Regions from separate parts of the Homo sapiens genome. Here region 1 is linked to region 2. Evidence: fine-mapped expression QTL. A gene starts in region 2. The other region holds a variant in brackets. All regions are shown on one strand. Distances are from middle to middle. Region 1 has its middle 39 kb from the start of WLS. Region 2 holds the start of WLS (Wnt ligand secretion mediator).

The links.
Region 1: its variant is fine-mapped to the expression of WLS in whole blood (GTEx, PIP above 0.99).

What each region holds. Positions count from the first base shown.
Region 1 is chr1:68,262,826-68,279,704 of GRCh38, reverse strand. No RefSeq gene overlaps it. Among named protein-coding and RNA genes, the nearest start is that of WLS, 39 kb to the right of the region's middle. RefSeq lists enhancers at 1,071-1,655, 2,737-3,364. The variant G/T (reference allele first, on the strand shown) is at 8,005.
Region 2 is chr1:68,228,810-68,244,043 of GRCh38, reverse strand. WLS (Wnt ligand secretion mediator) reads left to right here and starts at 11,521. Exons shown (of 12, transcript NM_024911.7): 1 at 11,521-11,850. The coding sequence starts at 11,745. It also overlaps the pseudogene RPS7P4.

The DNA.
Region 1 (16,879 bases), 35 kb before region 2:
CCTTCTTCTCCTGTTAAGATAGTATACACGCTCCAAATTCTATTAACAACTGCCTCCTTGAGTGGTTATGAATGCCAACATACATTTGATATATGTGAACAAAAATCTGTCTTTTGCCTTGCTAATCTGTCTTTTGTCAGTTTAATATGCAGACCCTCAAGCACTAACCATAAGAGGGTAGAGAAAAAGCTTTTTTCTCTCCAACAGCATCATCTCCTTCTGGGAAAATAAGACTCACCCTTCAAGACCCAGCTCAATGCTGCATTTTTCCTTCAATAGGAAGTGTTCTGTCCTTCTTCCAACCTTCTAAGAAATTTGCTGATATCTCTTTTAGAGCATTTCTCTCATATATCTTACAATAATGTACCATTTGTTTCCTCTGTCATATTCATATATATATATATATATATATATATATATATATATATTTAAACAAAGTCTTGTTCTGTTGCCAGGCTGGAATGCCGTGGCATGATCTTGGCTAGCTGCAACCTCCGACTCCCTGGTTCAAGCGATTCTCCCGCCTCAGTCTCCCGAGTAGCTGGGATTACAAGCACACGCCACCATGCCCAACTAATTTTTTGTATTTTTAGTAGAGATGGAGTTTCACCATGTTGGCCAGGATGGTCTCGATCTCCTGACCTTGTGATCCACCCACCTCGGCCTCCCAAAGTGCTGGGATTACAGATGTGAGCCACCGCTCCCGGCCTACTTTTTTCTTTCTTTTTTTTTTTTTTTGAGACAGAGTCTCATTCTGTCGCTCAGGCTGGAGTGCAGTGGTAAAATCTTGGCTCACTGCAACCTCTGCCTCCTGAGCTCAAGCAATTCTCCTGCCTCAGCCTCTGAGTAGCTGGGATTACCGGCACCCACCACCATGCCTGGCTAATTTTTGTATTTTTAGTAGAGACAGGGTTTCACCACGTTGGCCAGGCTGGTCTTGAACTCCTGACCTCAAATGATCTTCCCTCTTTGGCCTCTCAAAGTGCTAAGATTACAGGCGTGAGCCACCGTGCCTAGCCTAATATACATGTTTTAAAGACAAAGACTGGTTCTATCCCACGTTTGGGCTTCCAGTACTTTGTATATCTAATAGACACTTGGTAAATATTCAGTGAAAGAATATGGCCTGGAAGGAAGAAATGAAATATGTCTGTTGGCCTCAGCATCAGGAATCTGAATAGTTCCTAAGCCGGTGGCAGTCACTTCTTAGCTATTAGCTTTGGCCAAGTCCCTTTTCATTCTCAGCCTCAGCTTCCTCATTTGCAAAATGAGAATAATAGCACCTCTGTGGAAACTTTCATTTTCATGGTGATTAGATGAGCCATCTCACTTAAACATCTAGCAGAATGTTTGGGACATCAAAGACACTCCATAAAGTTAGTTCCTCTCTGCTTCCTTCACACCTAACAGGGGTCTGTACTTTGAGGAAACTCAGTGGTCTTCACATCTTCATCCTATCTGAATATCACTTCCAGGAGCCTGCCTCCCTTTCTCCTGCCCAGGTTAAAATTGCCCCAAATAAGAACAACATAGGTGGGACAAATCCCTTCCAGAGCCGTAGAGAGCCAAAAAGCCAGGACTTCTGGAAGCTCCCCTGGTGTTCTAGGCATACTGTTAGATCAACTTGTCAGCTCACTGTTACCTGTGTCAGCTGAGAGAGGGAGGTTAGAATGGTGGTGGTGGTGGTGGTGGAGGGGGCTTAGCTGATAGAATTGAGCTTAGAAGATGAATGGGGATGGGTGAAGTGGCCACATAAGATGGCTAGGCCAAGAGAAAGGAGGGCTTTGGTAATGAGAACAATGTCTTTATATGTGTGTTTCTCTGGGAATATATATAAATCTGTGTGATTTTGTTCTCCGTGTGAATCTGTATGTCTCTGCTTATGTGTACAGGAGAATCACCTAAGAGAAATCCATCCATCTATCCATCCATCCATACATCCATCCATCCATCCATCCATCCATTCATCCATCCATCTATCCATGCTTCCACTCATGTATTCATTCAGTCAGTCATCCGTTCATTTTATTTAAATTAAAAGAGATTTCCAACCATCTATTCATCCATCCATTTATTCATTCAGTCAGTCATCTTTTCATTTCATTCAAATTAAAAGAGCTTTTTAAAATGCTTCAGGTACTAGAGAAAAAAAGTTAAATAAAATATCCTCTACCTGCAAGGAGTCTGACTATAATCTGTTTGCAGTTTGTTGGAAACAGACAAGTAAGTATTTTACAAATACTGTTCTAAGATAGAGGCTAGCACAAGATGCTAGGAAACAGACCAAGGAAAGAACCCTGGAAAAAGAAGTACTAAGTTGGGCTTTTTGGTTTTGTTTTTTTTCTTCTTTGCAGGTTCCAAAAATACATTTAGCTCCATATATTCCCCATCCCACCTCCTTCCACCCCAGAGTTTGTTTAAGGAGATTTTTTTCTTTTGACTTGTGCTAAAAACCCAGTGCCGCAGCATTTCCTCTCTGGTATAGAGGCCATCCTTCTCCACCAATTTCAATAAAATAAAATCAAAGTAACTTTTAGTTATATCACTTCCCCTTGTTTGTTGTGGGAAATTATGAACTCTTTGAGGCACCAGCACAGTTTCTTAGAATATAGAAAAGGCTCAATAAACATTTCCCGAATAGTGGGCAAGTGAATGAAAGAATGAAGTTCTCTACCTGTGCAAGTCTTATGTGTCACATGGAGACCCCTCCTCTGGATTCTCAGGGTCATGAGAGCAGCCTGACACTGGGTCTGGCCATCCAGAAGCACTTAAAAAGTGATAGATAATAGTGTAATTAGTTACTACCATCTATAATTACTATTTAGTGGGTGGTTCCAAAATATTTAACATATTTATTTTTACTTTTAGAGTAAATGGGTTGGGGGGTGGGGCGGGCAATGGAGAGAGAGAACACTTTCAGGCCATGATGAAAACCATGTGAGGCACTCCACAGCTGTTTTTCAGACCTCTGCAGGAGCACCATGCATTGCCTCCTTCTCTCAGCCAAATTCCAAGATCTAAGGGTTACCCCCCAGGAGGGAACATGCCATTCCCAGCAGAGTCCATTATCTCTTGCAACCTGTTATCTAAACAGATTGTCTCCTTGGCTCCATTAGATGAGCAGATAAGCATACCTGAAGCTCCTGGGGCGCTCTGCCATTTACATAAGATCCCAGTGCCTTGGGCCACTGCCTAGTGCCTAAGGAACCCAAAGGTTGTCTCTCTCAGAACTCAAGACTTTCACTCCTTTGCCTCCTAGGCATTTGCCAGTCACAGAATTCTCCACTACCAGGCCTCTTGGCAAACCAAGTGTCCAGACCAGTCTGATTCCCCAGGTTTAATCCTAAACCAGTAGCTTGCGTCTTCCTTTGCTGAGACCTACTTTGAAAGCCAAAAGGACTGAGTTGTCTGCAAATAATTCCAATGCCACCATGAGATTTGGGGTTTATTTTATTTTATTAGAAACAGGCTTTTGTTATGTCATCCAAGCTGACATGGAACTCCTGGGCTCAAGTGATCCTCCCACATCAGCCTCCTGAGTAGCTGGAACTACAGGTGCATGTCATCACACCTCGCTTTTAGGATTTGTTTTTAATAGAAGTGAGTTATCCATTAGCATTTGTGAGACATATCTGGAACGTCACCTCAAGTATGAAGACTGACTTAACTCACTCCAGCTACCTGGATTTTCATTTTGAAAAACTAATGTCTAGGCCTGGAGCTACAGTTTTGCTCCCAGTTCAAAAATGTCTGGCATATAATAGGTGCATAAGAAATGTTGTTCCAATTAATGGAGAAAATGTCAGTTTGGCCTTCATCTGAATGAAACATTTACCTTGTTTGGGTAGAGAGTTATGAATCTGGAGATGGCTGGTCCCTCAGTCTACCCGTTCAGAAAGAACATCACTCAGTAAATCATACCAGGCAGTCAGTCGGCACTTTCAAAAACTGTGCTTCATTATGGTAGGACTGGGAGTATAGAAGGAACAAAGGGAGTGTGTGTGTGTGTGTGTGTGTGTGTGTAAATATATATATATATAACTTGCATAATTTTAAATTTTATACAATAAAGATAGAGCATACATATGACAAAATACTAACATGAATGAACCCTTCATGTTATGGAAATATATACTACGTCTGTTCTTTTCTATATTCTGTATTTTTTGTTGTTGTTCATAAGAGACAGGGTCTTGCTCTGTCACCAACTAGAGTGCAGTGGTGTGATTATATCTCACTATAACCTCGAACCCCTGGACTCAAGGGATTCCTTGAGGCTGGGATCACCTTAGCGTCCCCAGATGCTGGAATTACAGGAGTGAGCTGCCGCCCCAACCATATATTCTATTTCTAGCTACTCTATATTTCTATTTCTGAAAATTGTCAATTTTTTTTTTTTTTGTCATTGTTGTTGTTGTTGTTTAAGATGGAATCTCACTCTGTCGCCCAGGCTGGAGTGCATTGGTGCGATCTTGGCTCACTGTAGCCTCCACCTCCCAGGTTCAAGTGATTCTTCTGCCTCAGCCTCCTGAGTAGCTGGAAATACAGATGTGCACCACCATGCCCAGCTAATCTTTGTATTTCTTTAGTAGAATCGGGGTTTCACCATGTTGGCCAGGCTCAAACTCCTGACCTCAAGTGATCCTACCACCTGGGCCTCCCAAAGTGCTGAGATTACAATCATGAGCCCCCGCACCCTGCCCAAAGTTTTTTGTTTTTTTTTTTTAACTATGTTGCAAGGATTTGATCACCTAGAGAATGTGGATTAAAGGGAACCAGAGCTCTTTCACAAAGGCAGAATGTCTTCTGCTCCTATCTTTTTGAAAATGTACACTTAGTCCTACATCCCTCACAACAACATGAAGTGTTCAATATTACACTAGTCATTTTGCAGATGAAAAAAAATGAGGCATTGAGACATTAATTAACCAGCTCAAGATGATACAGATCTATCTGACTGAACTGGGCTTCAAAACAAGCAGCCTGTCTTCAGAACTCTCCCCTTTAATCATTGTCATAATGAACCAGAACCATCTGTAACAGAGAATGGAGCAGCAAGAATAGCTATCTTCTGCCTCTTTTCTGGAGCCAAAAACTGATCTGGAGAACTTCACACTCTTTCTAAGGCCATGTTATCTCAACCTTTTTCCCCGCTTTTATCCCTACTCTCTGCCTATTAAGTAGACTTTTTAGATCTTTTCTGATCATTCCCTCCCCACGAAATTTTAATACCACATATATGCCTTATATCTGTTTACGTATGATGAGGGGCCACAAAACATTTTTATATTTAAGATTTTTTTTAACCTTCCTAATAACCAACTTTCACCTCCGTGGCGGCAACATTGTCCCCCATTAAGAATGTGTGTTCTGAGGAAACCAATATTGAAGATTTCTGTAAGATCTTTTATGTTGCCATTGTTTATCCATATGTCACAAATACATGGTGTGAAACAAAAATCTCCCACATAGACTCCCACAGGAAATACAGTAATGGGAGAATTTCGGTTCTTTCTCCCTGGCTTCCGAGGTTGTGTCTCAGGAGCAACTGCTGGGGTGTTCATGAGGGGATGGAGAGTGAGTAACACCACAGTAATTGCCTCAGAGCTGGAGACTCCTGTTGTCCTTATTATACAGAGCCAGTTTCCAATTACATGTGCTAATGAGGTCCAGCAGTAAGATGGGTAATTGCAATCCACAAGAACTCCCAAACCTCATTTAGAAAGCTGTTTCAAGCATCTCTTGAGCCTGTGAACCAGACTAGGATAACTATTCCTCTTCTTCTTGAACCTGTAAGAACCAGACTGGGATGACTGTTGATTTTCCATTGTTTCCAGCCTCAAACAGAGAAGGAATAACGATCGGGCCTTGTTCACCTTGCATGTTTTTACTCAGGGCATTCCGTGAACCAAGCACTTTGTTGACCCCATTCACAGAGATGTCTAGTATGTACCCATAGGCTGCATATGTGGTAGGTATCGTCCTTTCTATTTTGAAGATGTGAAACTGACTGATGCAAAGTGTTACCAGTAGGAAGTAGCACAGTCAGGGTTCAAAATCTGGTGGTTCTAATTCCAGGTACATTCCTTCATGGTATCTTCAAAGCCTTATGAAAAAACTGGAAAGACCTGGAAAATGTTCAATTCAATTGAATTCAGTGCAATTTGAATTGTTAATCAATTTAAATGTTCATCATTTGAGCTTTAAAGGTAGGCAAACTGGTTTTTTTTCTTTCTAACTATATGTCCATAAGAAATTTCCTTAATGGCCCTTGCATGTTATTCAAAATTCTAATTAGTAAAACTGTATCGTCATGAAGATTAAATGAGGTAATGTTATCAAGCACCTACTATATCATCTGCATCAAAATATCCTGTTTCCTACTCCATTCATCGGTTTGGTCCTTGTATCATTTTGTATCATTTCTTTGTTTTTTCCCCTTGTGGCCTTATTGTTTCCTGACATTTTAAAATATCTATCTGGCCTTCAGAGCTGAATTGTAAGAACTTCAGGATCAGGAGCTGTTCTCATAAAGATGGTTCTCAAATTTCGAAATTTTTATCTTTTTTTTTTTTTTTTTTTTTTGAGATGGAGTCTCGCTCTATTGCCCAGGCTGGAGTGCAGTGGCACAATATCGATTCACTGCAACCTCTGCCTCCTGAGTTCAAATGATTCTCCTGCCTCAGCCTCCTGAGTAGCTGGGATTGCAGGCACCCACCACCACATCCAACTAAGTTTTGTAATTTTAGTAGAGACGGGGTTTCACCATGTTGGTCAGGCTGGTCTAGAACTCCTGACCTCGTGATTCGCCTGCCTCGGCCTCCCAAAGTGCTAGGATTACAGGCGTGAGCCACTGTGCCCTGCTTCAAATTTGTATTTTTTTAATGTGTGAAATCTTATACATTGCACATTGACACTCAAAGTACTAAATTAATATCAGCTTCCACACATCACCCAATGAGCATGAATTTGAACTCTCAACTAGTGGTGCCTTCGGCCAGGATTCCTAGGTTCAATTCGGATGGCATCATTATCTTTATGCAGCAATTTTTGCTTGTTCTATTATTTGAATAGCTAATCGCATTTGCCCTTCTAATATGTGAAAAGCCATAACAAAAAAGTGATTGTGACATAATAAAAGATATCCCCTAAATGGCAGATCTACATCTCAAATAGATTATTATTGGACTTAAGCTGATATTTGTGTTCAACTGTGAAGAGTAAGAATAAAATTAAGGGCCATGCATGAAGCATTGGAAGTCTGTCTTTTCAGGGTCAGCCTAAGAGGAGAGGAGTAGTGGTGGGGACATGAAGAACACTTTAGAATTTTAATTGTGAATCTGCATAAAAATCATTGACAGAGAAGTTCAAGGGTTTAAAGAGACATAGCCAAGGGTAAAGCTCACACAGATTTCTCAATTAAGTAGAGATTGGCAGAGTTGAATTTTTCTTTAACAAAAATATTTTTAAAAACTAATACCGGCAGGGCGCAGTGGCTCACGCCTCTAATCCCAGCTCTTTGGGAGGCTGAGGCGAGCGGATCACAAGGTCAGGAGTTCGAGACCAGCCTGGCCAATATGGTGAAACCCCATCTCTACTAAAAAAATACAAAAAACTAGCCGGGCGTGGTGGCGGGCGCCTGTAGTCCCAGCTACTCGGGAGGCTGAGGCAGGAGAATGGCGTGAACCCGGGAGTCCGATCTTGCAGTGAGCCGAGATCGCACCACTGCACTCCAGCCTGGGAGACAGAGCGAGACTCCGTCTCAAAAAACAAACAAACAAACAAACAAACAAAAAAACCATGAAATCATTTCATAATACCATGAAATCATCACTATAAGTTCCTGCTCAATCTCTGCACAACAACATTAGCAAATTCTTCTTCCCACAGTAAAATGATTTGGTTGTTTTGTTTACTAAATGTCACTTTTAGGAAGTAAGTTCTGCAAGGGCAGGAATATCTGTTTTGTTCAGAGATGTGTTCTAAGCACACAGATCAGCACCT[G/T]GCATGGAGTAATCGCTGAATAAGTATTTACTGAATGGAATTCAAGTAAACTGAAGTTTAAATAAGATATTACTTTGTAAAATTATCTGTTATACATCTGATGAGAGGTTAATATTCAAAATATATAAGAAACTCAAACAACTCAATAGTAAGAAAACAATCTAATACAAAAATGGGTAGATGGTTTGAATAGGTATTTCTCAAAATAAGACACATAAGTGGCCAACAGGTATATGAAAAAGATGTTCAGGATCACTAATCAACAGAGAAATGCAAATTAAGACCATAGTGAGAGATATCACCTCGCAGCTATCAGAATGGCTATTATTGCAAAGATGAAAGATAACATGTTGGCAAGGATGTGGAAAAAAGGCAACCCTTATACACTGTTTGTGGAAATGTAAATTAGAACATCCATTATGAAAAAAAAATATGGAGGTTCCTCAAAAAATTGAAAATAGAACCCATGATATGATTCAGCAATCTCACTACTGGGTATATATCTGAAGGAAATGAAATCAGTATGTGCAATAGAAGAGACAGCTGCACTTCCACATTCATTGAAGCACTATTCACAACAGCCAAGATATGGAATCAACCCAAGTGTCCAGCAATGAATGAATGAATAAAGAAAATGTGGTATATGTACACAATGGAATACTATTTGGTCTTTAAAAGGAAGGAAATTGTGTCATTTGTGACAACATGAATGAGCCTGAAAGACATTATGTTAAGTGAAATAAGCCAGGCACAGAAAGATACATACCACATGATCTCACATGTGGAATCTAAAGAAGTTGGACTCAGAGAAGTAGAGAGTAGAATGGTGGTTACCAGGGGCTAGAGAGTGTAGGGGGCTTAGGAAAATGTTGATCAAAAGACGCAAAATTTCAGTTAGGTAAGTTCAAATTAGTTAAAATAAGTTCAACAGCTCTATTGTACAACATGGTGACTATACCTAATTAAAAAGGTATGTAACTATTTGCTGCCGGGTGTGGTGGCTCACGCCTGTAAACCCAACACTTTGGGAGGCTGAGTCAGGCAGATCATGAGGTCAGGAGTTCAAGACCAGCCTGGCTAACATAGTGAAACTCCATCTCTACTAAAAGTACAAAAAATTAGCCGAGTGTGGTGACAGGTGCCTGTAATCCCAGCTACTCAGGAGGCTGAGGCAGGAGAAATGCTTGAACCTGGGAGGTGGAGGTTGCAGTGAGCCGAGATAGTGCCACTGCACTCCAGCCTGGGTGACAGAGCAAGACTCTGTCTCAAAAAAAAAAAAATTATTTGCTATATTCAATTTTTTTCTCTGTTTAATAATTATGTGATCCTTCTATAACCTAGGAGTTTAAGAAAATCTAAAATAGATAATATGATTAGGATTTTATTATTTAGCTCTCACAGGTTCAGAAAAGCTGAGTACCAAGTTAGGCTCTGTCATGCGTTAGGCATGTAACCTTGATCAAGTCACTAAACCTCCCTGAGCCTGATTTAAGATAGATAAATAGTAACATATTTATGTAACAAACCACATATTTATCTTTGTATCTGTACTGCAGAATTAGGACAGTTTATAAGAATACCTACAATAAACTAAAGTAAATAAATTGCATACAGAAATATGTAAATACATATAAGTTCCAAGAAAAATACAGGTTGAGTGGGAAAACAAGACTAAGTAAAAGGGCTCCGTTTCTTTTTCAGTTCTTAAGATACAACCTTAGAGATTAATGTGAGAATCAAATGATTTAATAGGATGCTGTTTGATAAAGAGTTCATTGACCATGATGCACAGAGAGGCTGTATAAAGAGAAACAAGCCCAGCCATACCTCACATTCCAGCCACCCCCATTGGAGCCCCAGACGTGTGAGTGAAGTCACCATAGACTCTCCAGCCCAGGTGAGTCACCCTGTCCAGCACCACACAGCAGGGATAAGCTGCCACCACCATGCTCTGCCCAAATTGGAGAATTATGGGCAAAAATATGGCTGTTTTAAACCACTACCTTTTGGGTTAGCTTTTTATACAGTAATAGATAAACAGTTTGGTTTCATTTCTTGGTCTCAATAGCAGCAACTTTCGTCTCCTGTCTGGAGCAACTCCCTCTTTATTTCACCAATTATCACTCCACTATCTGTCCTTTTGCATCCATGGATTTTGAAGGAAGGTCAGTGGTATTGTGTGGAAAAGGCTTTGGCCTTTGACTGATACCTCCAAAAAAATTATCATGTGTGAATACTAAACAAAAATAATATTTAAAGCTGCAAATTGTTTGGCAATACAAAAATAGAAATCTGAGCCTTCTATTGACCAAAAATCAGAAATTGGATGTCACAGTGGCTTGTTTGCATTAGGCCAGAAGGAAGAAAAATGATATTAGTCATTCCCAGTGAGCAACAGTGAGAGATTGGCACGTGCACATGAAATGCAATCTCGCTTCCCATAGAAAGTGATTAAAAAGATTAACACACACACAAACACACCTTTTGTATTCCCAATTTTAATATATTGTACAACAAATACGTTAATATCAAGGAAAAGAAAGTAAGCCACAAGCTTTTCACCAAAATGTAACTACAGTCATGTATTGCTTAATGATGGGGATACCGTCTGAGAAATGCATCCTTGGGCAATTTTGCTGTTATTCAAACATCATAGAGGGAACTTACACAGAACTAGATGGTATAGCCTGCTAACACCTCAGGTATAAGGTATAGTCTATTGCTCCTAGGTTATGAACCTGTACAGCATGTTAGTATATTGAATACTGCAGGCAATTGTAACACAATGGTAAATGTTTGTGTATCTAAACATAGGAAAACTGTAAAATAGGAAAATACAGTAAAAATAAAATATCATATAACACACCTATATAAGGCATTTATTATGAATGAAACTTGCAGGACTGGAAGTTGCCGTGGGTAAGTTGGTGAGTGAGTAGTGAATAAATGTGAAAGTCTAGGACATTTCTGTACACTATTGTATACTTTACAAACGCTACACTTAGACTACACTAAATTTGTTTTAAAATATTTTTCTTTCATTAATAATAAATTAACCTTGGCTCACTGTAACTTATCTACTTTATAAATTCAATTTTTTTAACATTGTGACTCTTCTGTAATAACATATCTTAAAACATACATTTTGCAGCTGTTCACAAATATTTTATTTTTTTATCTTTATTCTGTAAGCTTTTTTTCTACTTTTATCATTTTTTTTTAACTTTTTTACATTTTAGTTAAAAACTAAGCACAAAAACACACATTACCTAGGCCTACATAGGGGCAGGATCATCAATATCACTATCTTCCACCACTGCATCCTGTCCCACTAAAAGGTCTTCAGGGTCAATAATACACCTGGAGCTCTCATCTGTGATAATAGTGCCTTCTTTTGGAGTACCTCCTAAAGGCCTGCCTAAGACCATCTTTCAGTTAACTTTTTATTTTTATAAATAGAAGGAGTACACTCTAATATAATGATAAAAATATAGTACAGTAAATACGTAAACCAGTAAGTTTATTATTATTATCAAAGTATTATATACCGCACATCATTGTATGTGCTGCACATAATCATATGTGCTCTACAACTGGCAGCACAATAGGTTTGTTTGCAACCAGCATCACCACACACGTGTGAGTAATGTGTTTTGCTCCAATGTTATGATGCCTACAATGTCACTAGGCGAATAGGAATTTTTTAGCTCCATTTTAATTTTATGGAACCACCATCCTATAGGCAGTCTGTCATTGACCAAAATGACATTATGCAGTGCAAGACTGTATTTTTATCTTGCCAAGTTCCTTTTCGATCCCTTTCCAAGTGCATTAACTGTGAATCCTTATTTTTAGCTGATTAATTATCTAACTCCTCTTTCACAGGCACAAGAACCAATGTGAACCCAAAGCAATGAGGAAGGAAGGCAGGAAAGGGAAAATAAGGGAGTGTTCCTTGTTGCCCTGGAGGCTTGGAGGAAAGCTGCTTAATTCTCAATTTATTTTTCTCCATTTATTCAGTCAATAAATGTTACTACAAAATTTTTAAGTACTTTTCATTTCTTAAAATTCTTCAGCTGTGTAATTACTTGTTCATTGATCTTCTGCCCAGTTAGACTGTAAGCTATGCGTGAGGCCAGAGGCCAGATCTGTTTTTTCTCGTTTTTTTTTTTTTTTTTTGGTTGCAGTGTTGCAGTGAGCCAAGATCATGCCCAGGCTGGAGTGCAGTGGTGCAGTCTCGGTTCACTGCAACCTCCACCTCCCGGGTTCAAGCAATTCCTGTGCTTCAGCCCCCCAAGTAGCTGGGATTACAGGCATGCGTCACCACACCCAGCTAATTTTTGTATTTTTAGTAGAGATGGGTTTCACTATGTTGGCCAGGCTGGTCTCGAACTCCTGACCTCAGGTGATCCGCCTGCCTCAGCCTCCCAAAGTGCTGGGATTACAGGAGTGAACCACCATGACTGGCCTCAGATCTGTTTTTTCTTAATCACTACTGTATATCTAGCGTCTAACCTAATGCCTAGCACAATGCCTTAAGAGGCATTTAGTAAATGTTTGTTGGTTTGAAGTATGGGAATTGCAAGTCCAGAGGACACATTTACCAAACTAGGAATGGAAAGGAAGAAGTAAGGAGAAAATGGTTGTTAAATAGTGGGTGAGAGTCTATACATTAAAAGGAGAGCGTGCATGCTCTAATGTACTTTATAATAAATGTGGTCTATTTGATTAATGCTGCCAGCTCAAATTTGGGTCTTCTGGAAAAAAAAAATGATGAAACCATCTCCGGAGACATTTTGTATTCAGTTCATTTAATATTTATACTGAGTTTCTTAAGTCAGCATCCTCAAGGAGACCAAAAATGATGGTTGGAATATGGAGAGTAATGCTCAGGAGGATGGGGTAAGAGCACTCCCCACTCACCCAGTCCTAGATAAATCAACATAGCCTGAGTTAAATTTAGGTACTTCTCTAAAGGGTGGAGGGACTACTCCAGAATAGTCCAAAAGGAAATAACATTCTTTCTCATCTCTTTCTCCACAAGACTCTAGCAGAGCTTTAAAAAGTAGGTTTCTTATTACAAGGAATAAAAACTATATAAATTAGAATAGAGATCAAAAAGAGACCCCAAAATTCAATGATTTAGTAAGATAGAATTTCACTGTGCTTTCCCATAACAGTCTATAGGTGGGCAGACCAGGCTAGTAGATAGCTCTGCTCAACAAAATAATTAATAGACCTAGATTCCTTCCATTTTGTTGTTCCATTATACCCTATTAAGGCAGTATTTCTCAAATGTTAACATGAATTTAAATCACTGGTGGATCATGCTAAAATGCAGATTCTCATTAGCAGGCCTGGAATGGGGCCTGAGATTCTGTATTTCTAAAAAGCTTCCGGGTGATGTTAATGCTGTTAGTCCAAGGCGCACACTCTAAGTAGCAAGGTGTCAGGGCATTGTCATCATCTTAATGGTCAAGGCTGGGTGACTGGCATATCTGTTCTCCAGTTTTCAGTAAGGGGTTAGAAAACAAGTCTAGGGCAAGAAGTTGTCACTAAGTAAACTATGTAGAAATAATATACACATCTTCTTTTCATATTCAATAGTCAAGGACTTAGTAAGATGGCCACACTTGGCTTCAAAGGGACTGACGAATGTCTTTAGTCTCTAGCTGGGCAGCCATATTACCATCTAGAAGGGAATTGACATTACCATACACAAGGAGAAAACTGATATATTGGGAAACAGTCAGCAGTTCGCACCATGAAAAATAAGGAGCCAGGAGCTTATATAATTAAGCAATAGAAATGAAATGTAACACCAAGAAGTAGATGTATGGGCCAGATATTGCACTGAAACCTATGAAAACAGCTTTGGCAAAAAGCTATTGGATCAGAAGTCAAGGATCATTGATAGCATTCCATTTTTAATTTTCAATCTCTGGCATGCTTTGCTTGCACATCCTCTGTGACTTGTTCGTAAGAGTTGCTGATGATAGGAGAGGTAGCAGCAAATGACTCTGAGACTATTTTAGTGACACTGAGTGGACTCTGACATGTGCTTATGGTTAGAAAAAACAAATATAAACAAAAATCAAGAACATAGCTAAGATTTCATTAAAGACATTAGGTCAAATACTAAAATAATCCAAGCATGAATTAGGAGCTTCTGGATGTGTTAATATATAACATGAATTTATATATCCCTATGGCCAACAGTTTACCCAGAACACATTTCAAAACTTACCTGCTTCTAACAGCATCAGAAACAAAATTTATTGTTCAGCCCCTTGGATATGACACATTTTCTTAGAATATTCAGTTGCATAATAAATTTTAGAAGCTTCCAGCAAAGAAAATTTCATAACTTTTTCTGTCATACCCACATCAATTCAACATGTAAGTATCCTCTGCCTTACACAAGATCTCTTTTGCATCTAATCTCATTAGAGTGACCGTCTGAAACACTTCTGAGCCTGAAAGGGGCATTATTAACAATTATGCTGGGTATAAATCCAGCATATAAATCCAGTTGTGTAACCTATGACTGTCCTGGGTAGCCCAGGATGTATAACTCCAAGTCTAGGTTGTACCTATCGTATTTTCTTTTCATCTTTTTTCCTCAATTATTAGGTAGAAGTAGCAGACATTAATGTATTTGTGAGTAAGTTTCTTTAAGATTGCAATGAATAGCCACGTGTGGAGGCCCACCCCTGTAATCTCAGCACTTTTCATTTCTTAACATTCCTTAAGTGAGGTGGGAGGATTGCTTGAGCCTAGGAGTTCAAGACCAGCCTGGGCAACACAGTGAGACCTTGTCATTCCAAAAAGTAAAAAAATTAGTCGAATATGGTGGTGCATGCCTGTGGTCCCAGCCACTCGAGAAGCTGAGGTGGGAGGATCACTGGAGCCCAGGAGGTCGATGCTACAGTGAGCTGTGATCACACCACTATGCTCTAGTCTGGGCAACTAAGCAAGACCCTGTCTCAAAAAAAAAAAAAACCAAAAAATACCCCAAAAAGATTGCAAATGAATAGTCAATAGCAGATTACCTTGGTAATGAGAGTTTGTTACAAATAATTTAGGTAATGAAAATAAGGTGAGGTTATGACTGGAGAGCTGTACCATCAGTTTTTTGGCTTGTTTGTTTGTTTTGAGACAGAGTCTCGCTCCATCACCCAGGCTGGAGTGCAGTGGCACTATATTGGCTCACTGCAACCTCCACCTCTTGGGTTCAAGCAATTCTCCTGTCTCAGCCTCCCAAGTAGCTGGGACTACAGGCACCTGCCACCATGCCTGGCTAATTTTTGTATTTTTAGTAGAGACGAGGTTTCACCATATTGATCAGGCCAGTCCCAAACTCCTGACCTCAGGTGATCTGCCCGCCTTGGCCTCCCATAGTGCTGGGATTACAGGCGTGAGCTACCGTGCCCAGCCGTGGTGTCAGTTATTTTTGACCCTAATCCTGTACTTTAAAGAATAGGATGTAGGACAGGGTTAAAATTCAACATAATTCAGGATAAAGCCTCCACTGTCTCCTCCTCTCTGTGTGCCTCTGTTGGGCAGAGATTTTGCCAAGTCTTCTCAAGGTACTTGGCCTCCCTCACATCAAGTTTGTCTTCTTCAATCAGTAATGGCCAGGGAACAAGGATGGGTTGACTCACTGAAGATGTTGTTAACTTTTTATAGAAAAAAAATACTTGAGGATCATTTACTCTGACTATAGCATGTCATTAAAGCTGCTAGTGATATATGACTGTAGCATGGACATAGAACTCAGGGACATTTCTCTAGTAAAACAAACTCGGGACATTGTATACTTACAAACAACCATAGGAACAAGCTGACTATCAGTCATAATTAGAATATGCTGAGAATGTATTATGGTTTCCTACTAGGACATCCCTTGTTTGTTTAAATCACAGAGAAATAGTGCCACTAAAAAGTATAAAAGAGTGGACATCGTTGAACTGGAGAATTAAAGAAAGACTAATTAAAACATCATAGTTGAGGAAAAGAGAATAAGCCTGGTTTCCCCTTGCAATTCCAAATTCCAGCTTTTACTGCTAAACAAAAGCCCAACTTATGAAAAGTAGTATAAATAAGATAGAAGTGTATATCTCTCTCATATGACAGTCTAACAATATGGGATAGTAAGACAGCTTCATAAAGTTAAAAGCCCATTAAAAGTTGGAATTTGGAATTGAAGGGGAAACCAGGCTTATTCTATTTTCCTCAACTATGATGTTTTAATTAGTCTTTCTTTAATTCTCCAGTTCAACGATGTCTACTCTTTTATACTTTTTAGTGGCACCATTTCTCTGTGATTCCTTCTATGTCTGCATTCTGGGTGGTGTTGTCCTCTACTACATGGTTGAAGGTAGATTCCCAACCCGTCTCCTCAGTCAACATTTCACCAAGCAGAAAGGGGGAAGGGTTCAAGGGCGAGACATGCTTTTTGCTTCTTCTGCTCATATCCCATTAACTACAAGAAAGGCTGAGGAATATCTTTGGTAGCCAGGAGTTCTAGTAGGGTCTAGCATATCATAGTAAAGGACAAAAAAAGAATGGATACTAGGAGATTACTAGCAATCATGCCATATAATAGAAATAATAACTTAATCTATCAATGAATGACTAGGGGGAACCTGTTGGCATTATTTAGTAACCTTATATCATAGGAAAGTAAGGCTCACAAAGGTTAAACGATTTACCTAAGGTCACATAGCAAGTAATCATGGGAACCAGGACACAAATCCATGTCAGTTGACTGCAAATGATAGGTTATTTCTACCACTCTGTGATGTCTTTCCAACTGCTTTTCATATAAATTTATAAAAAGGAAAATAATGGTAGAAGATATCAGTAAGAGTTA
Region 2 (15,234 bases):
AAGCAATTCTCCTGCCTCAGCCTCCTGAGTAGCTGGGACTACAGGTGTGCACCACCACACCTGGCAAATTTTTATTTTTAGTAGAGATGGGGTTTCACCATGTTGGCCAGGCTGATCTCAAATTCCTGACCTCAGGTGATCCACCCGCCTTGGCCTCCCAAAGTGCTGGGATTACAGGTGTGAGCCACCACGCCCGGCCAACTCTTTATATATTGAATATATTTGATCCTCATCACAGATTTTGTGAAGATAACATCATCTCCATTTCACAGGTGACTTAGCTGAGGCTCTGAGAGGTTAAGTTACTTTCCTGAAGTCTCAGAGCTAGATGATGGTTAAGGCAGAATTCCACCAACATCTGTTTGATCCTAAATCCTTGCTTCTCATACTGCCTCTCATAATTGAGTAACAGCACCTGGCATATAGGAGATGTCCAATAAATTTATAATGGACATTAATAATAACTAATGGATATATGTCAAACAACATGTGGTGCTTGGGGTGGGTTATTAAAATGTTTAAAGTGGACAGAACGCTGTTCTGCACATGCACCCCAGAACTTAAAGTAAAATACAAATAATAATAAAATAATTTCAAAAGTGGACAGAAACCAAGGTACCCTTGCGGGATTGGCAGAAGAGGAAAAAACTCACTTTTTTCTCTCCTTTTTTAGTGACTACTTACTTATATTAAACTTACTATGTGTCAGGCACTGTTTTAAACACTTTATACAAATAAACCCTCTTAATATTCATTACAATCTCATTTACAGATGAGAAAACTGAGGTACAAAACATTTAACCTAACTGGCCCATGCACACAGCTAGTAAGTGGCAAAGCCAGGTGATCTGGCTCTGGAGCCCATGCTCTGAACCATGCTGTCTCTGTGAGGGTCAAATGGAGCCAAGCATGGAGGACCTTGTGCATCAAGCTAAGGAGAGCAGCTCTTCATAAGCCGGCGCTCGGCGAGTTCTCCCAGGAGAAGGCCATGTTCAGTTCGAGCGCCAAGATCGTGAAACCCAACGGCGAGAAGCCGGAGGAGTTCGAGTCCGGCATCTCCCAGGCTCTTCTGGAGCTGGAGATGAACTCAGAACTCAAGGCTCAGCTCAGAGAGCTGAATATTACGGCAGCCAAGGAAATTGAAGTTGGTGGTGGTCGGAAAGCTATCATAATACTTGTTCCCGTTACTCAACTGAAATCTTTCCAGAAAATCCAAATCCGGCTAGTAAGTGAATTGGAGAAAAAGTTCAGTGGGAAGCATGTCGTCTTTATCGCTCAGAGGAGAATTCTGCCTAAGCCAACTCGAAAAAGCTGTACAAAAAATAAGCAAAAGCGTCCCAGGAGCAGCACTGTGACAGCTGTGCACGATGCCATCCTTGAGGACTTGGTCTTCCCAAGTGAAATTGTGGGCAAGAAAATCCGCGTCAAACTAGATGGCAGCCGGCTCATAAAGGTTCATTTGGACAAAGCACAACAGAACAATGTGGAACACAAGGTTGAAACTTTTTCTGGTGTCTATAAGAAGCTCATGGGCAAGGATGTTAATTGTGAATTCCCAGAGTTTCAATAGTAAACAAAAATGACTAAATAAAAATATATATATTCATAGTAAAAACACACACACACACACACACACACACACACACTAAAACGCTAAGGAGAGCAATCCTTGTCCTTTTGCTTTCTCCAGTCTGAGGTCTCTTCTACACCTCTTACAGCAGTCATTCTTTTTTTTTTTTTTTTTTTTTTTATGAGATGGAGTTTTGCTCTTGTTTCTTGGGCTGGAGTGCAATGGCGCCATCTTGGCTCACCGCAACCTCTGCCTCCCGGGTTCAAGTCGTTCTCCTGCCTCAGCCTCCTGAGTAGCTGGAATTACAGGCATGCGCCACCATGCCCGGCTAATTTTGTATTTTTCGTAAAGATGGGGTTTCTCCATGTTGGTCAGGCTGGTCTCAAACTCCCAATCTCAAGTGATCCACCTGCCTCAGCCTCCCAAAGTGCTGGGATTACAGATGTGAGCCAACATGCCCGGCACAGCAGTCATTCTTTAAGACTTGCCCTCTCAGCTAATAGAGTCATTGTATCACCAATACCCTTTCATCTACATGAGATTATAAACTTTGTGAGAGTAAAAGATATCTGTCATTTTTGCATTTGTGTCCCAGCACTTGCCAGATACCTGGCATATGGTCAACACATAATAAATATTTATGGAATAAATGAAAGAAAGCTTCATCAAATCATTCATGCTTCAGGTATCAGATAGGACATATGTTCAAGGCCATTCATTTGGCTGTAAAGGAGTAAATGAGACTGGGTAATTTATTTTTGTTTATTTATATTTAGTGTTACTCTTTTTAATTTAACTTTTATTTTAAGTTCAGGGGGTACCTGTGCAGGTTTGTTACACAGGTAAACTCATGTCATGGGGCTTTGTTGTACAGATTATTTCATCACCCAGGTATTAAGCCCAGTACCCGTTAGTTACTTTTCCTGATCCTCTCCCTCCACCCACCCTCCACCTCTGATAGGCCCCAGTATGTGTTGTTCCTCTCTATGTGTCCATGTGTTCTCATCATTTAGCTCCCACTTGTAAGTAAGAACATGCAGTATTTATTTGGCTTTCTGTTCCTGCATTAGTTTGCAAATGATAATGGCCACCAACTCCATCCATGTTCCTGCAAAGGATATGATCTTGTTCTTTGTTATGGCTGCATAGTATTCCATGGTATATATGCACCACAGTTTATCTAGTCCACCACTGATGGGCATTTGGGTTGTTTCCATGTCTTTGCTATTGTGAATAGTGCTGCAATGAACATACATGTGCATGTGTCTTTATGATAGAATGATTATATTCTTTTGGGCATATACCCAGTAATGGGATTACTGAGTCAAATGGAAATTCTGTCTTTAGATCTTTGAGGAATCACCACACTGTCTTCCACGATGGTTGAACTAATTTACATTCCCACCAACAGTGTATAAACACTCCTTTTACTCTGCAACCTCGCCAGCATCTGTGTTTTTTTTGTTGTTGTTGTTGGCTTTGAGATGGAGTCTTGCTCTGTCACCCAGGCTATAGTGCAGTGGCATGATCTTGGCTCACCACAACCCCACCTCCCGGGTTCAAGCAATTCTCCTGCCTCAGCCTCCTGAGTAGCTGGGATTACAGGTGCCTGCCACCACACCTGGCTAATTTTTGTATTTTTTAGTAGAGACGGGGTTTCCCCATCTTGGCCAGGCTGGTCTCGAACTCCTGACCTCATGATCCACCCGCCTCGGCCTCCCAAAGTGCTGGGATTACAGGCATGAGCCACTGCACCCGGGCTTTTTGGTTTTTAATAATAGCCATTCTGACTGGTGTGAGATGGTATCTCATTGTAGTTTTCATTTCTCTAATGATCAGTGATGTTGAGCTTCCTTTCATATGTTTGTTGGCCGCATATATGTCTCCTTTTGAAAATTGTCTGTTCATGTCCTTTGCCCACTTTTTTTAACGAGGTTTTTTTTCTTGTAAATTTGTTTAAGTTCCTTATAGATGCTGAATAGTCGACCTTTGTGAGATACATAGTTTGCAAAAATTTCCTCCCATTCTGTAGGTAGACTGGGTAATTTATAAAGAAAAAACGTTTATTTGGCTCATAATTCTACTGGCTGGAAGATTGGGCATCTAGTGGCAGCCCCAGACTGTTTCCACTTACGGGGGAAGGCAAAGGAGAGCTGGCATCTACAGAGATCATGTGGTGAGCGAGGAAGTAACACCCAGCTCTCCTGGGAACTAACAGAGTGAGAACTCACTCACCACCCACTCCCAGGAAGGGCATTAATCTACTCATGAAGAATCCACCTCTATGATCCTAACACCTCCCATTAGGCCTCACCTCCAACCTTGGGGATCAGATTTCCATGTGAGATTTGGAGGGGTCAGATGAGCCAAACTACAGCAACATATAACAGAAATAGGAAAATGTTTGCCCTCATACATTGTTGTCTTAAGATGAATAGTATTCACAAAACAACTCAAACTCGGGCGAAGAGGGTCTTCACTGGGGATTCATATCATAACAACAAATTAAACAAACAGAAATATTATAAGACTCAATTTGCAGATTACCTAAGACAAAATCAATTTTATGTATTACATGTCTTTTGCTAATGTATATTAAGAATGTCCTCAAAACACTCTAGCATTATGGTTAACAATTACTCTCATGAGTCATTTGACTTGAAAATTGATCTTCAAATTGGAAAAGCCCTTAGCAGCAAATACCAGCAAAGACAGATTATAAAAATTTAAGGCTTAATGGGAGGGAGTTTGCTCTGAGTGGGAGTTAGGTACTGAGGAAGAGAACAGAGTTGAACACATGAACAGAGGAGCAGGCAGAAAACATTAAAACAATGCCTGTCACTGGGCGCGGTGGCTCACGCCTGTAATCCTAGCACTTTGGGAGGCCGAGGCGGGTGGATCACGAGGTCAGGAGATCGAGACCGTCCTGGCTAACACGGTGAAACCCCGTTTCTACTAAAAATACAAAAAATTAGCCAGGCGTGGTGGCGGGCACCTGTAGTCCCAGCTACTCGGGAGGCTGAGGCAGGAGAATGGCATGAACCCGGGAGGTGGAGCTTGCAGTGAGCCAACATCGCACGACTGCCCTCCAGCCTGGGCGACAGAGTGAGACTCCATCTCAAAAAAAAAAAAAAAAAAATCTCAGCTTCCCAATTTGCTAGCAATGTGGCCAAGGGAATATTCCTTAACTTCTCTGAAACAGCTTTCCTCTTTTTAAAATGATTACAATAGTACCTATCTTACAGGATTGTTGTATGGATTAATGGAGATAACATAGGGAAAGCATTTAGAAGAGTGCTTGGTACATAGAAAGTAGTCAACATAAGTTCTCATTCTTGTTATTGCTATAATTATTGGCATTATTCATAGGAGCTATTAACTGCCACTGTATTTGATGTTTGAGGAATGATGTCCTCCCTCACTCCCAGCCATTCCAGTTTCTTTTCACTAATGCAAAGTAGGAGAGGTCCTTGATTTTCATATATATTATCCTCATGCAACCTTTGCTTTTCCATGTTACATATAGGCATCCTAAGCTGTTTTTATGGTACATTGTCCTTCATGCTGAGCTACTTAGTGATGATTTTGAGCTAATCTGCAATGGGGATAAAGATTGGGCTTTGGCTTGAGTCAGCGTCTATTCTTAACACATCTAGGTTAATGCTGAGGTTAAGCCTCAGCTTCTCTTCCTGACATTGGCCGTCTATGGGAGGTTTCCCCAAACCCCTGCATAGCCAGGGACTGGAACTTATTCATTCATCTTTTTTTTTTTTTTTTTTAGACGGAGTCTTGCTCTGTCTCCCAGGCTGGAGTGCAGTGGCACGATCTCAGCTAACTGCAAGCTCCGCCTCCCGGATTCACACCATTCTCCTGCCTCAGCCTCCCGAGTAGCTGGGACTACAGGCGCCTGCCACCAAGCACGGCTAATTTTTTGTATATTTAGTAGAGACAGGGTTTCACCGTGTTAGCCAAGATGGTCTCGATCTCCTGACCTCGTGATCCGCCCGCCTCGGCCTCCCAAAGTGCTAGGATTACAGGCGTGAGCCACCGCGCCCGGCTCATTCATCATTATTCATTACAAAAATTTGTGTGCCAAGTCTGCCACGGTACTGGGTGTTGTCTGCATATCACAGGAATCACTGTCCGGGGCAGGTGTTTCTGGGCCTTCCCGGGTTTTCCACCTATTGCCACTCTGCGCGGAGAGAAGCAGATATCGAGGAACTTGTCAGCATGAGAAAGTTCATGGGGAGACGGGGAAGAAGAGCCATCATGACATGAAGGAGCAGTCAGCTCAGCCCCTATTTGGCTTATACCATGAAAACTGGCAAAAAGAAAAAGCCCTTTTCCCCACCTCTGGTGGAGGAACCCAGCACAGGTGATCTCAAAGGCTTAAACACTGGAGGCTTCCCAGCTCTCTGCTGCAGCTTCTTTCAAGCCTGAGAAACAGGGGGCTGGCTGGCTACTTCAAACTGTTGATTGCCTCCCACTAGAGGCCTCTGGAAACCTGTAAAGTTTCTTACCTGCCCTTCCAGGTTGCCTGGGTTCAAAGAGGCAATTTTATAAGAGAGACTATAATTAGGGGTTTTATGGTTTGTTTTGTTTTGTTTTGTTTTGCTCTCTGGGAACAGAATCCTCCTCCCCTATAACATGCCATATTTGTTGAGTATTCACTTTGTGTCAGGCACTGTGCTAGGCATTTTTTATTTTGTTTAATGATCACAACCCATAAGACTGGTATTATTTATTCTTTGCAAGAAATGAGAAAAGTAATTTCCCCACATTTATTTACACAGCTAGCAAGACATAAAGCTGTGACTGAATAAGCCTAATGACTGAAATGTCTGTGGAATGTAAAAGAAAAGGTGAAATGAAGATCTACAGAGGAGGTGGAGATGCAAAACGGGAGTGGGACATGGGGTATTTATTAAGCAATTGAAGATCAGGTTGAAGTATTGGTTTTCTGAATAGTTCCTACCCACAGTTATTGTGTAAAAGGAGGCATTAAGAAAGGTCTTGTATCTCCATACAAAATAAGACAATGGGGTCCGCAGAAAAAGAAGGGAGGGGTGGTTTTGTTTGGGGGAAAAAGAGCATTTTAAAAGAAGTTGTGTGTGTGTGTGTCTATATGTGTGTGTGTATGTGTGTGTGTGTGTGTGGTGAAAAGTGACACTGAATAATAGAGTGTGAACCCACAGTGCTCGCTCACATTCACAGGTACCAATTACCAGAAAATACCAACAACCATGGAGCCATAGGGATGCCATTTATGGATAAAAGCTATTTATGAGAATGAGAAGACTCAGAGTGGGATTATTCCTCTTGTTAGTTTCCTCTGGGAAGTAAATTAGATGTTTCAGGAGATGTATTCAATCTTTTTAGAACTCTACATTACATTTACTGCAATGCCAATAATAATGTGCTGCTCTTGGCTTCCAAAGGAGGCTTTCTCAACTTCAGAATCTAAGCCCTCCTCTGTGCAAGGTGCTGTGCTGGGACTGTGAGGCACACAAAGGCTCAGATCACACTCTCCTTGTGTTGAAGGAATTTGCAAGCCAGTTAGGGTAACAACACATCACATATATAGATACATGTGCAAAATGCAGTCTAGTGTATAGGTGCCAGGTAGGAATATAGTCAGTCAATTATATATAGGAACTGGGGGTGAGGGAGGAGTTATATCTACCTTCAGTTAGATATCCATTTATCCATTCATTCATTCATGAATTCATGCATTCATTCATCTATTCAATACATACGCATGGAACATCACTATGACCTTCCATATCCCAAACACTTTTTTTTTTTTTGAGATGGAATTTTGCCATTGTTGCCCAGGCTGGAGTGCAATGGCGTGATCTCAGCTCACTGCAACCTCCGCCTCCCAGGTTCAAGTGATTCTCCCGCCTCAGCCTCCCGATTACAGGCATGCCTCACCACGCCCGGCTAATTTGTATTTTTAGTAGAGACAGGGTTTCTCCATGTTGGTCAGGCTGGTCTCGAACTCCTGACCTCAGGTAATCCGCCCACCTCAGCCTCCCAAAGTGCTGGGATTACAGGCGTGAGCCACCATGCCCGGCATATCCCAAACACTTTGAATAAAATGATGAATAAATCAGAATACCTAATATAAAGTCTAGTGGAATGGAGTTGAAATGATCAGTTTTTATTGACAGAGTTGGATTTGCCCTTGGATCATTTCAGTCTCTGGGATAATCTACCTAATGACAATGACTCAAAACAAACATTTCCTTGGCAGCTGGAAGTTTTTAGAACAGATGTTTCTATGTTAAAAACCACTGAGTATTGTCAAAGTTCAATTCTAGATGTTGTCCTTATTAACACACTTGTCAAGTAAAGTTAACCACCTAGACTTCTCCTAACATATGCTTCAAACAGTAATCACAATATGATAAAAATTTTAGAGCTGAGCAATAATCAGTCATCAGTTTTACTAGTTTTACTAGTTTTTAAACACAAAATTATTGATTTCCCTTAGTTTCCTAAATATAATAATAAATATTCATATCTTACAAGAATACCATGAAATAGTACTATTATTCCCATTTTACGGAAGGGAAAACTCTTCTGTAAAGAGTGAAGGTTTTACAGAAGCCTCAGAGTTGGTCTGTGAAGCCTCAGAGGTGGTAAGTAACTGCATAATGGCCTATAATCACATGAAACAAGGGGCAGATGGGATCTGGGTTCCAAACCAGATCCAGCTGACTCTAACTGTCATGTTCTTTTCTATTCACCTGTGTTGTCCGCTTGGGAAATAAAGATTCACAGTCACTTTTAATGTTTAAAAAGATGTGATAGAAATTCAATTTTTTTAAAGCAGCCCATGGTGATGAATACTACAGGTGTCTACATCCCACCAAGTTGGGCATTATTGGTAATCTCATGACAGAAGTACTGATTAGCAATTAGAAATATCCCTTTTTAATTAAAATAACTATTTAATAAGTGCTCTTTTAAAGCAGGGGATCATCTTGGTGGAGAACCAGCAACTCATTTACAGATGAGAAAACTGAAACCTAAGGAGTTAGGCTAGTTACTCTGCAGAGATGCATTTCAGAGCAGAGGGGGTGGGGTGTATTGTAGCAGCTCATTAAAAACTAAGTCAAGGAGTTCACTAATCTGAATAAATCACTTCTACCACTCCAGACATTTTTTATGGATCCAGTTTATATTTGAAGTGGACGGGGGCCAGGCGTGGTAGCTCACACCTGTAATCCCAGCACTTTGGGAGCAGAGGTGGGTGGATCACCTGAGGTCAGGAGTTCAAGACCAGCCTAGCCAACATGGCGAAACCCCATTTCTACTAAAAATACAAAAATTAGCTAGATGTGGTGGTGGGCACCTGTAATCCCAGCTACACAGGAGGCTGAGGCAGGAGAATTGCTTGAGCTCAGGAGGCAGAGGTTGCAGTGAGCCAAGATCGTGTCACTGCACTGCAGACTGGGCGACAGAATGAGACTCTGTCTCAAAAACAAACAAACAAATAAATAAACAAAAAACCCACCATTTTTTCTCTACCCTCTTATGCATAGTGCTTGGGGGTCTGTGGACTAAACTGACAAAAGACAGATTAGCAAGGCAAAAGACAAATTTTTGTTCACATATATCAAATGTATGTGGGCATTCATAACCACTCAAGGAGGCAGTTGTTAATAGAATTTGGAGCTTATATTCTATCTTAATAGGAGAAGAAGTGTATTTATGAGAAAACAAATGACTTTTAGGAAAGATAAATGGGCCCTTAGGAGTGCTGGGCTCAGAACATGATACCCCAAGGTATCTGAGTACTTTGAACTGAAGGACATTGGAAGGACAACAATTCTGTCTACTTCATCCTTTCTGATAGTACCTGGTGTTTGCCAAAGTAGAGGTAATTAATTACTATTCAGTGAATAACATTTGGACTGGGGGGGGGTTCCTCTGGGGCAGGTGCAAGTACTTTGACATCTTGGTATCCTTGAGTGCTTAAGAAAGAAAGCCTGGAACATGTTAAAGGCTCAATAAGTGACTTGGATAAAGAGTTGAATGAGAGAATAGATAAACAGCAACCACAGTCATGCATTGCTTAATGATGGGAATACCTTCTGAGAATGTGTTGTTAGGTGATTTGTCATTGTGCAAATGTCATAGAGGGCACTTACATAAACCTAGGTAGCATAGCCTACTACAGACCTAGGCTACACCGTGTAGCTGATTGCTCCTAGACTACAAACCTGTCTGGCATGTTACTGTACTGAACACTGTAGACAACTGTAATGCAATAGTAAGCACTCTGTGTATCTAAACATATCTATAGAAAAGGTGTTGTAAGAATATGGTATTATAACCTTATAGGACTACTGTCACACACACGGTCTGTTGTTGACTGAAACATCCTTATGTGACACATAATGATGTGTATATCCTCAGAACTGTTAAGAACTATTAGATGTTGAAGAGATGGAGTTTTGTATGCATAAAGTTTGGTGCTTGTCCTTGACAAGTCTCTGTTCTATTTGGAGATTAGAAATGAATGCTTCTATTAAGTGTAACCTGCATGACATCTTTTATAAGGGCAATGAAAATTCAGGAACAGAGTAGAGGAGGAGAGAGGACTGGGAAAAATAGTCTCTTGGCATGAAGAGGGTGTGTAAGGATGGGAGGGACAAGAAACAAGATGTGTGGGTGGTGGTGGTAGAAACTGCACGTTTGGGGAGCAGGGTGGGGTATTTACCAAACCAAGGGTCTATTGAGTAAGGTGAGTTGTACTGGCCAAGCGGCCAGTTTATGAAACATGGAAAAACCAGGCCCAGAAATTTAGGCTTGATAGAGCAGGAAATCTCTATCGGGAGCCCCGCCCCTCTTTTTATGGAAGTTAAGTATAAATATAAATATATGATTTCTCACAAAGAGACAACAAACATTGTAACTTAATATAGGTACCCTCTAAACCAACTAAGATCTCTTTAGACCTTTGAAATACAAACTGTGGGCTTGCTTTCACATTCACTTATTCATTCCACAAAAGATTATGGGGCACCTACTAGAGCTAGCATTTTGTTAGGCACCATGGGGGGTACAAAGAACAAAAAAAACTTGGTCCCTATTCCCCAGGAGTTTACAGCTCAGTGGTGGAGACAAACGTGTACACAAATCCTTACAATAGGAGGTAAAAATGTAAATACAGGATTGTAGGGGCTCAGTTCCCAGAGATACTGCATGGAGGTGGTGTGGAAAATTAGAAAGATTTTTTAACACTAGTTGGTTTTGGATCAGGTTTAACATTGATGGAGTAGAACATGTTCTCTTTAAGGCAATAACCAGGGTTAAGGCTGTGGAAGCACATGTGCTGGAGTAACGAACAGTGGTCTGATTTGGCTGGAGAGCAAGTTTCCTCAAGGGGCGCCGTGGGGAATTTAGCTGGGTATGTGCCCAATAACCGAGGCTGGGAATCTGGTAGAAAGAAGTCGAGCTGAGACTTTATTCCGCATCTCTGTGTTTTGACTTAGGCATCTATTGGGTCCTTTTAAAAAAAATTCTCCTCCTCTTTCCTAAAGAGAGTTCTAGCAGTTGGGGGTGGGGTGGGGACCATTTCCTAAAGTCAACGCGTAAGTTAAAGGTCTGCAAGGCGGTCCACCGGTGATTTAAATCTCGCACTTCGGAAACCAGAAAAGGAAACCTGTGAGAAGCTGGGCAGGGGGAACCCGCTTAACATCAACAGCAACCCCTAAATGGCATCAGACCTTGGAGAGACAGGTTGCAGGCCAGACTCGGGAGCCAGGCGCCAGCACCCGCCAGAGCTCTGAGCCCCGAACTGGTGGGCAAGGGGTAGAGGAAGAGAGGGAGGGAGGGAGGGAGGAAGCGCGAGAGGGAGGGAGGAAGAAAGGGAGGGAGGCGGCGTCATGTGATCCGCTTCCCTGCTCCTTTAAGCGTCCACAGGCGGCGGAGCGGCCACAATCACAGCTCCGGGCATTGGGGGAACCCGAGCCGGCTGCGCCGGGGGAATCCGTGCGGGCGCCTTCCGTCCCGGTCCCATCCTCGCCGCGCTCCAGCACCTCTGAAGTTTTGCAGCGCCCAGAAAGGAGGCGAGGAAGGAGGGAGTGTGTGAGAGGAGGGAGCAAAAAGCTCACCCTAAAACATTTATTTCAAGGAGAAAAGAAAAAGGGGGGGCGCAAAAATGGCTGGGGCAATTATAGAAAACATGAGCACCAAGAAGCTGTGCATTGTTGGTGGGATTCTGCTCGTGTTCCAAATCATCGCCTTTCTGGTGGGAGGCTTGATTGGTAAGTGCGGAGAGCTGCAAACTTTTCCCCCTTTCTGTCTTTTCGGGCCCCTTCCCTCTTTGCCTCTTGGGCTACTTGTTACAGTATCACTGCCTTGCTTCTATGATCTAATTAGTCCGGCTATTGTGCTTAAGAAAGCAGAGCTCCATGGGGCTCCGTGGGGCACAATCCAGTCTAGTGGCTAAGAGAAAAGGAGGGGAAAAAGTTTTGGCCTAGTTTCAGTATCCACTTGAAAGGCAAGAGGGGGGCGGCGGGGGTGGGAATCTTAAGCATGGCGACGGATCGCGCGAGGAAGCGCTGGGTTACAAAGTTGATTGCTCGCCCCCCCCCCCCCCCGCTTTTTCCCGCGTTCCCCCCCTTTTCCTCTCGGTTCCCTTCCAATCAGCTCCGGGAGGGCAACGTAATCGACTTTATTAGGAACAACAGAAGAGTCGGGGAACTGTGCCCGGCGCAAACCCGGAGCTCTGTTACAAGGCTGAGATACTTGCACGGTTGTAAATGCATTTGGTCGTCTTTGCTAGGGGCTGAGGGTTTGCAATTTGGGGTCCCGACCTTCGCGCCCTCTGCTTTCCCGCCGCACTCCACCCCACGCTCTGCCGTGGACAGGTCCGAATTGTCGGCCGGGAGGTTGGGTGGGATGGGGTGGGGTGGGAGGGAGTCCTTGACCAGCGCCGCGGGAAGTTGGAGAGGTCGGAGGGGAAAAGCGTATCCGAAAGGTGTTGCTTTTGGCCTCCTGCCCACTCGTGAATATCCCTTCCCCCACTACTTAGAGCCCCGAGAGCCGGTGACTGTGAATGTCCCCGTCCTCTTTTGGCGCTTAGGAGAGCGCCCTCAGCTCCCACCACAGCCCCCCGCAGGTGACAGCTCGCCGGCCTCCTCGGCGACAGCGCCCGCCCCGGGAGACCTCCCCTGGCGTGCACCTCCCGGACCTCTCTGAGTCAAACAGGCTTCCGGGTGAAGAAAACCGCCTCACGGACCGTCCACTCGGAAAAACTCCCTTCCCCTCACTGTCTCCCCATCTGCATCCATCCTCCCGCCTCTCTGCACACTCGCGCCCCCCGCCCCCTCAAGATTTGGGACATCCCGGCACAAACTTCAATGCCAACTTTGCAGCGGGCGCGGACGGGAGGTTCGGTTTCCTTACTTCACGGCTTTGTTAAACTTTGCGGAGTGGGGAGTCCACGGAGGGGCTTTCTCCGCGCGTGCCTTTACGGGCGCCCACGCGATGTGGGGTGCGGGGAAAACGCCCGGGGGCGCCGGCGGCGTCGCTGCCAGAGCTGCACAGGCTTGGGCACCTCCAGTCGTGTGCTTGGCGTTTTGTCTCCAGACTTGGGTTTGATGGGAACAAATTAAAGGGAGTTTGGTACTGTAAATCACGGTAACATCCAAGCCAATTGTCTTAAACAAAGGAGAGTGGGTGAAGCTTCATCAAGGAGAGAAATACCTAAAGGAGACAGTGCTCTTTTCTCTGTGTGCATTTATCCACAAAACAGAAAAGGGTTCAGAGTTTTCAAACAATCTCTTATCCCCAGTGTGGGCCAAACAGCTTCACATTTTCTTTCTGGAACCCTCACCCTCAACACACACACACACACACACACACACGCGCGCACACACACACACGGGTTGGCTTTTGTGTTAGGAGCTTCTGTTTGGCTACATGCAATCTCGTTTCCCCGTATTGGATTTTTCGAGGCTCTTAATACCTTCTCTGCTGGGAGCTGAAGGCAGCCTTCCCTGTGCCCTCACAGTGATTATGCAGCGGTTACAATTACACCTCTTGTCTCCCTTGATGAGCAGTTGCAGTTAGATGCCATTGGATCTTGTGTGATTTCAGTGGCAGACCATAATTAAAATTTCTTGCACCTTGTGCTTTCAGAATTAAATTGGCCTATTATCCCTGTCTGACCTTCATCCTCTTTGAGGTTTTTGCACAAGCAGCAAACCATTACACATAGTTTCCTGGTGTTTGTTGGTGTGTTTCTTTTTCTAGGCTGATCTCCTAGCTTTGCAGACAGAGCCCATTATCCAAGAAGTAGGCTTCCTAGGGCACTTCTGAAACTAGTAGGATTTCTGGGATGCTACCACCAAGGAGAAGCCCTAAGGGCACTCGTGAGTGGCTGGTGGACATTGGAGCGACTATAGGGTCAGAACACTTGTCTGTTCCAAACAGGGTTTGTCTGGAGTAAGTGGTGCCAAAGATTGTTTTTCCCGAAGAATTTGGTTAATGACGACAACCTCAAAAAGTCCGCGGCAGGTGCTAACTGTAACTAGCTTCCCCTCAATTAATAAACTGCTTTATTCCAATTTCCTTGAAAAATATCTATGTATAACACTTCTTGGAGGAAACTGTATAAGTTTACTGCTTACCTCTCCTTCCTCAATTGCAAAGGCTGTGTCTCCAATTCAGATCAGATCTAGCCCATGTTGAACAGTGACTTAGCCTTTCCTCTTTCACTTAAACAGTAATTTTTTTTTGCTCTTAAATCTAAAATTTGGGTAGGACCCAAATATGGGAAATAAATATCAACAAAATGTAAGTGAAAAATTTTCCCACCAAACTTCCCTAAGCTGGAAAACAAAGGAAACTAAGGAAAGAATAGCAACAAAGTGGGCAAGCGGAGACAGTAGTTGAAGGAACAGTTTGTAGGCTGGAAGTCAAGGTAAAGTTCAGAAACCTCCTCTGCTCTCTCGAGTGAGAAGAGAACTCCTCCGCTGCTCATTGTTATTGCCACTTAAAAAGTCAGTTGTCCTGGGTGTGAAGTGTCTCTCTAATATATCTGCAGTAGGCCAAGTGAGAAAAAGAAATGTCCCCTTTGAACTGGCCAGAATATATTTTTCTTTTTGATCACTCTTTTTGCTGATGAAAGTAAACTTAGGAAGAGCAACTTAGGAAGGGGAGAATATAAATGGCAAAGCTCTTGTTTGTAAGGGTGTGAGTACTGCATACACCACACACACAAATATACAGCACAAAAACAACCACCCCACCAAACAATAACAATCCGTGAACCCCAGAGTGACCAGGCAAGTGAGTTAACTAGCAGGCTTCAGGCTCCTCATTGGTAGAGGAAGGAGTTTAAGGTCCCTTTCGGTTCTAAAATTGTGTAACTCTTTCAGTACTTAGAGAATTGTACATGACATTTAGGCTGTTGTTTCGTTGTAGCCTTCTAGATTTGATGGAGAAAATTTAAACATTCACTATAAAAGCAACTAGCCTCCAGGAATTGGCTTTGGTTTAGCCAGCTTAAATATTCTCCTATTTCAACATCCTTCTTACCAAAAAAAAAAAAAAACAAAAAAAAACACATTTTTTTGCTTGCTTTTTTTTTTTTTTTTTTTTTTTTTTTTGGCACCAGTGTCTGTAAGCTAAACCTTTAATGG